Homo sapiens: one gene and its partner. The protein of the gene in region 1 interacts with the protein of each later gene in a biochemical or structural test. Each region holds a gene or a part of one and is shown on either strand. Other genes may lie near its edges.

Evidence for each region. Proteins that work in one complex are often made in the same cells at the same time.
Region 2: of the proteins of ALK (region 1) and PTPRJ, one has a biochemical effect on the other in vitro, tested with the Homo sapiens proteins (one large-scale study listed by IntAct).

The regions. Positions count from the first base shown.
Region 1 is NC_000002.12:29,915,028-29,918,684, forward strand, and holds part of ALK (ALK tyrosine kinase receptor isoform 1 precursor), read right to left. Parts: intron 1-3,657. UniProt on the Homo sapiens protein: Neuronal receptor tyrosine kinase that is essentially and transiently expressed in specific regions of the central and peripheral nervous systems and plays an important role in the genesis and differentiation of the nervous system.
Region 2 is NC_000011.10:48,165,402-48,168,448, forward strand, and holds part of PTPRJ (receptor-type tyrosine-protein phosphatase eta isoform 1 precursor), read left to right. Parts: intron 1-1,802; coding exon 1,803-1,961; 3' UTR 1,962-3,047. UniProt on the Homo sapiens protein: Tyrosine phosphatase which dephosphorylates or contributes to the dephosphorylation of CTNND1, FLT3, PDGFRB, MET, KDR, LYN, SRC, MAPK1, MAPK3, EGFR, TJP1, OCLN, PIK3R1 and PIK3R2. Plays a role in cell adhesion, migration, proliferation and differentiation.

The DNA.
Region 1 (3,657 bases):
ATTGTAAAGTTCCAAATAACCATAACAGGACACTAATAATGATTATAAAGAAAGGCAAAATTTCCTTTACAGGTCAGACTGGAAAAATTTCCATGTTGTGAGGTTGCCAGGCAGTGATCCTGAGTGGCAGGGCACTGAGACTTCTGCTGATCAACTCTCATTCTTTTCTTCTCCCACCTTCAGGCCAGTTCCTCCTGATTTTCAGCAGACCAACTTCCTTATAGATATTCCTTTCTCACTCTGTTGCCCAGGCTGAAGTGAGGTGGCACAATCTCAGCTCACTGAAACCTCCAACTCCCAGGTTCAAGCAACTCTCCTGAGTAGCTGGAACTAAGGCGCATGCCACAATGCCTGGCTAATTTTTTTATTTTTAGTAGAGACAGGGTTTCACCATGTTGGCCAGGCTGATCTCGAACTCCTGACCTCAAGTGATCTGCCCTCCTCGGCCTCCCAAAATGCTGGGATTACAGGCATGAGCCACTGCGGCCAGCCTAGATACCCATTTTTATTAATAATCACACTCTCCTCCCATGCCTTACACAAAAACCCCTCATGGACCTTCTTTCTCTTTTAAAAATTTTTGAAATGTTAAATTGGATGTGGATGAACTTCATCTTTCAAATGGCAATATAGATTCTCAACATTTAAAGGGATTTTTAAGTAGCCAGTAGGAGTCCACCAAATCTAGAACTGATGGCATCTTCTCAAGACACAGGTCACCTTTTGCCCTGCTCAGTGATGCTTTGTCATATACCCTCACCCATAGATGTATCTTAGATACACAATTCTCTGGTGATTGTGCCTCCCAAACCCCTGGATATACAGATCGCACCCCAGAGAAATAATCTATGTTTAATTGGAGGGCAGGGAAGAATAAATTCAGTAATTTCAAAATATTTGTCATTAACAATTTCTTAAGTGCTTCTCACCAACTTCAAAGATGTATATGCAATTCTTTTCTTTTCCTCTAAAAACACCAATGCCCAAAGGCTCCAGGGTTTGGATCATAAAAAGGTTCTGATTCCTTCTGCCATTCTGCATCCCAGCTCTCTGTCCTGTTGTAGCTTCTCAATATGTGAAAATATAGAACTGATTAATTAGGAATGCTGGGACTTGTCTGACCCACATCTCACCTGACTCCCCACTCCATTGGAATTCCATTCCATAGTCAGAGGAATATCAATGTCAGAAAACAAGGTTTCCCTGATATCCAACCCGAAGTTTGCTTCTACAAGTATGATCCAATTACTTCCATGGGCCACGCTAAATAACTCCTCTCCTTCACTGCCACTCTCTCTCTTCAGAGATTTGTAGATTGTTACCATGGCTTTCCCTTCATCGCCATTTAGCCCAGCCATATATATTTAATTCTTTTCATCTTTCATTGTAAATCAGTCCCTTCAACTGTTAAATCAGCTCTCTGCTCTTCTCTGGACTAGTTCCAATTCTCCCAATTCACCTCCAATAACTGATATCCCTTCTGGGAGCTCCAATTTCCTCTCCATCCTCCTTTGCTCTCTCTGCCCACTCCAGAAATGAAATGGGAAGGGACTGACAGATATGGGAGTTCAAAGGTCAGATATATTGCATTGCATACATCTCTAAATTGCTCAGGCCTCTCCATAGTACATGTAAAATCCAAAGTCATGTATCCACTTTCCTGGGTGGGGAGGGAGTGCTTACAGGGAAATAGGCCTCCTATCCCATGAGTCATCATCCCCTAGCCCTCTGCCTGGGTGACAGCAGAAACAGATCTCAAAACACCTGTAAGCCAGGATACAAACTGGAGCTGTGGGCAACATGCCAGCCTTGCAGACAGACATCTTTTCTATGATTTGGGCTGTCCTGGGAGAGGCCAGAACCATTAATACAGTCCCAGAAACTGCCTCTTCACCTCTTCTCCATGAATGGGTGAATTTGGGATCTGCCTCAGACTTGAAATGCCGATCCTATTTCTGAATTCACAGTAACCCACAAGGAAAAACCATTAGCATTTCATGCATTATAAGGCCTCTCAGACATCTTTCTGTCCTCTCAGACAGCCCAAATCACAAGCAATGCAACGGTTTTGCTTTCTCCTAACTGGTGCTTTTTCATTTTTACTATTTTAGTCATGGTCCTGCTCAGGTTTAGGAAGCTATCTTTGGTCTGAGCCAAATGGGCTGCTCCAGGCCCCTCACCACAAAACATGGAAGAACAATCAGCTCTTCCCTCCCCCACAAATAGCCCCATCAGCATCATTGTGTACCTCCAGACAAGACACTTGGGCAGACACAGGAAGAAAATAAGCTGAGCTGTGCCTACTTTCCTTCTGTATAATTGAAGAGCCCACATCATAGAAGAGTTAAATGCCTTTTCTATAAATCAGAGCCTATATAAAAATAATAAACCCATTTCTCCAAACATGATAAATAGCAAAATCAATCCCAGTGTCAGAACCTAACCTTGAATTTTCATAGGGAAAATGAACGGAACCATAATGATACATGTTGTCTGAAACACAGAACATGGTATAGCAAGGTGTATCTACTCCATGGGGATGTCTGCAATGGAGACTGTATCTGAATGAGGCTGGGGAGGCAATGATAATGTGAGAGAGGCTAGTCCTGCATGGCCAGCTGCCTAACTGCAGACAGCATATGTCCTCAGAGAAAGGAGAGACCAGGCTGTTCCAAGTATGATCACCACAAGGCCCGAAGTGCTTTTCAATAGGCTGGCTGTCTCTCTGGAGGTCATGGGGAGCTCATCCAGTTACACTTAGTGTCTTATTTGATCCTATCAATAATCATTTGATTCCAATCCTGCTGAAAAATGCTTGGCCAAATTTTCTTGCCTTTTAATGGCAGAATCCTGGCTCCTACTGAAATCAGCATTGCTAGATGTGTCAAATGATGCATAAGGGCTTGGTCCAGCTGCCAAATGTACTGGGCCACTGAGGGAGGGCTTGGGATGCCCACAATGCTTCCCTACAGCCAATAGCAGAGAAGCCCTTGGAGCACAGCCTTTCTACATAAACCTCCCCACTCAGCAGCTCCAACACCTTATTTAAGACTTGAGTGGAGTATATTCTTTAAATGAATTAAGCATGTGACTCTTCAGAGACACCCACTGATAGCTTCATGCAACCTACCTGTTTACAGTTGGCAGGTTCGGGGCTGTAGAAATGAGCCCTTTTGCCTGTCACCAACATCTGACAACAGCTGATACAGACTGCTGGATTCTATGGTCATTTGATAAAAGGTGATGGGGAAGCTCCACAGATGCTCAGAGGCATGAAACTAGAAGATAATCTGCATTTCCAGAGAAGTCATTTTTATATCCATTACTAAAACACTGGGCACTAAAACAGAATGTTGCATGTATAAACCACACAAACCACAATGACATTAAAGCCCAGCTGTTCTTTACAAAAACATCTTGGGTGGAACAACAGTATCAGTCTTCCATCTCAGTTCACTGAAGGCACTATCAAACTCATCAGTGCCTCTTAGGATGGTCTATATAAATTCCAGCACTAAATGAAAAGGGCTCACTTTAGGTGCCAGTGTCACTAACACTAATGTTGAAATGTGCATCCGCACTCTGTTTTTCTTGGGGGTCACATACTAGTATGTATTCTGTGCAATGACTAGGGAACCTCAGCTTCTGAATATCCCT
Region 2 (3,047 bases), on another chromosome or scaffold:
TTGGTTTTACCCAAACTGTTACTGAGAAGTGTTTTTGAGGCATGTTTTCAACAGAACATATTGCAAAGTTGCTTTCCTCAAAGGGGTGAATGTTCCTTGACCAGGATGAGAGCAGAATATTAATTTTGTATCAGGCTATCGTCCTGTACCGATTTAGAACTCTATGAATATGTGCTGTGTTTTTGAGTCTAGCAGGGAATGTTCTAGATGCCTGGGTACATTGCGTGCTCTGGGGTGAGCTTGGTGGTTGTTGTGGAAAGAGTGAAATTCAACTCCTGTGTTGGTCAAAAGAGAGATTTTCTTTTTTCTGCTATAATTATATAAAGTAGTATTTCTCAATCTTTTATCCTTTTTTGAGAAACATAGAACTCTTATCCCTGCTACTAGAGTCTAATCTCTTTTTTATATTTTGAAAACAATACTTATTCATATGAAAGCATTTGACAATATATTTTTCTCTCCTCTTTTTTTTTTTTTTGAGACGGAGACTTGCTCTGTCACCGGGCTGGATTGCAGTGGTGCGATCTCGGCTCACTGCAACCTCTGCCTCCTGGGTTCAAGCGATTCCCCTGCCTCAGCCTCCCAAGTAGCTGGGACTACAGGCGTGTGCCACCATGCCCAGCTAATTTTTTTTTTGTATTTTAGTAGAGATGGGGTTTCACCATGTTGGCCAGGATGGTCTCGATCTCCTGACCTCATGATCCGCCCGCCTCGGCCTCCCAAATTGCTGGGATTACAGGTGTGAGCCACCGTGCCTGGCCTCAATATATTTTTCTCTTACTCTTCCTTCCCCAATCCTGCTTCCTGGAGGTAGCCAATGTTTATAGTTTGGTGTACATCTTTATAAGACTCTTTATGTACATCTGTAAACACACACACACACACACGCACACACAGTACTTTGAAAAAATTGGATGCTGTTTTTTTTTTGAGATGGAGTCTTGCTCTGTTGCCCAGGCTGGAGTGCAGTGGTGCCATCTCAGCTCACTGAAACCTCAACCTCCTGGGTTCCAGCGATTCTCCTGCCTCAGCCTCCTGAGTAGCTGGGATTACAGGTGTGTGCCACCACGCCCAGCAAATTTTTGTATTTTTAGTAGAGACGGGGTTTCACCATGTTGGCCAGGCTGATCTCGCACTCCTAACCTGAGCCGATCTACCTGTCTTGGCCTCCCCAAAGTGCTGGGATTACAGACAGGAGCCACCGCGCCTGGCCAGATCCTGTTTTATGTATGTTGCTTCTCTGTGATTTTTTTTCTCCTCTTATAATATCATGGATATTTTTCTGTGTCAGCTTATACCCTTGTTTCCTCTTTTCTTCATCACTATCCACAGATTCTGATATACCTACCTGAAGGATAGTCCTCATCCAGCTCCACCTGATCATCTCCTTTTAACCTCGCTCCTCGGTTGAGCATTACAGTTGATTCTTACTCTGTACAGTCTCACTAGCCAAGGCAATCTTGTTGGACATTTGATTGTTCGAATGTGTGTGTGCATTTTTTCCTCTACATTTCCTCCTTCCTTTGCCCTTCCCTGAGACTGTGGCATTTTTCCTTGGGGAGGGGAGGTGTGGAGTGTGCTCTTCTGGTTGAGAATCATTGAGGAAGGACATCTTGCTTCTGTGATTTCAGATTTCACTGCAATGTTGTTACCTCTTGAAACATGTTCGCTTGAACCGTTTGCTGTTGGGTGGATGGGGTTTGGGAGTTGGGCGGGGGAATGACCTGTTTGAAAATAATTTTGGGTGCTAATTTCTGGGACCCATGTTCATTTTCTGTCTCTCTCTTTCGTTTTTCTATCAGGACCAGTATGTTTTCCTCAATCAGTGTGTTTTGGATATTGTCAGATCCCAGAAAGACTCAAAAGTAGATCTTATCTACCAGAACACAACTGCAATGACAATCTATGAAAACCTTGCGCCCGTGACCACATTTGGAAAGACCAATGGTTACATCGCCTAATTCCAAAGGAATAACCTTTCTGGAGTGAACCAGACCGTCGCACCCACAGCGAAGGCACATGCCCCGATGTCGACATGTTTTTATATGTCTAATATCTTAATTCTTTGTTCTGTTTTGTGAGAACTAATTTTGAGGGCATGAAGCTGCATATGATAGATGACAAATTGGGGCTGTCGGGGGCTGTGGATGGGTGGGGAGCAAATCATCTGCATTCCTGATGACCAATGGGATGAGGTCACTTTTTTTTTTTTTCCCCCTTGAGGATTGTGGAAAACCAGGAAAAGGGAGCTATGATTTTTTTTTCCAAAACAATTTCTTTTTTAAAAAAGACTATTTTATATGATTCACATGCTAAAGCCAGGATTGTGTTGGGTTGAATATATTTTAAGTATCAGAGGTCTATTTTTACCTACTGTGTCTTGGAATCTAGCCGATGGAAAATACCTAATTGTGGATGATGATTGCGCAGGGAGGGGTACGTGGCACCTCTTCCGAATGGGTTTTCTATTTGAACATGTGCCTTTTCTGAATTATGCTTCCACAGGCAAAACTCAGTAGAGATCTATATTTTTGTACTGAATCTCATAATTGGAATATACGGAATATTTAAACAGTAGCTTAGCATCAGAGGTTTGCTTCCTCAGTAACATTTCTGTTCTCATTTGATCAGGGGAGGCCTCTTTGCCCCGACTCCGCTTCCCCTGCCCCCTGTACATTTGTGCTCCATTTTTTCTTCCCTTTTCCCTCCCAGTTTTCTCCAAAGACTCTTCTGTTGGCAACATTTTCAACCCATTGGTTGGGTGAGAATGGCGACTCAAATATCACCTTGAGAATTTCTGTGGGTGGGAATGGGAGAAGCAGAGGAATCCTACAGTGGCAGAAATCCTTTTCTTGTCCCTGTATTATCCTTTTTCTCATGTCTGTATTTGGTATGAAGGATTATTTAAAGGTGCAATATGTGAATTAGTGATTCATGATGTTCTAGGTTTTTAGTAACGTTTTACTCAGGTTGGCATTTTATGTGTCTGTGTCTGTATGTGTGTGTGTATGTTCAGAAGCGTGGCAATCTGTGAACACTTCAGCGTG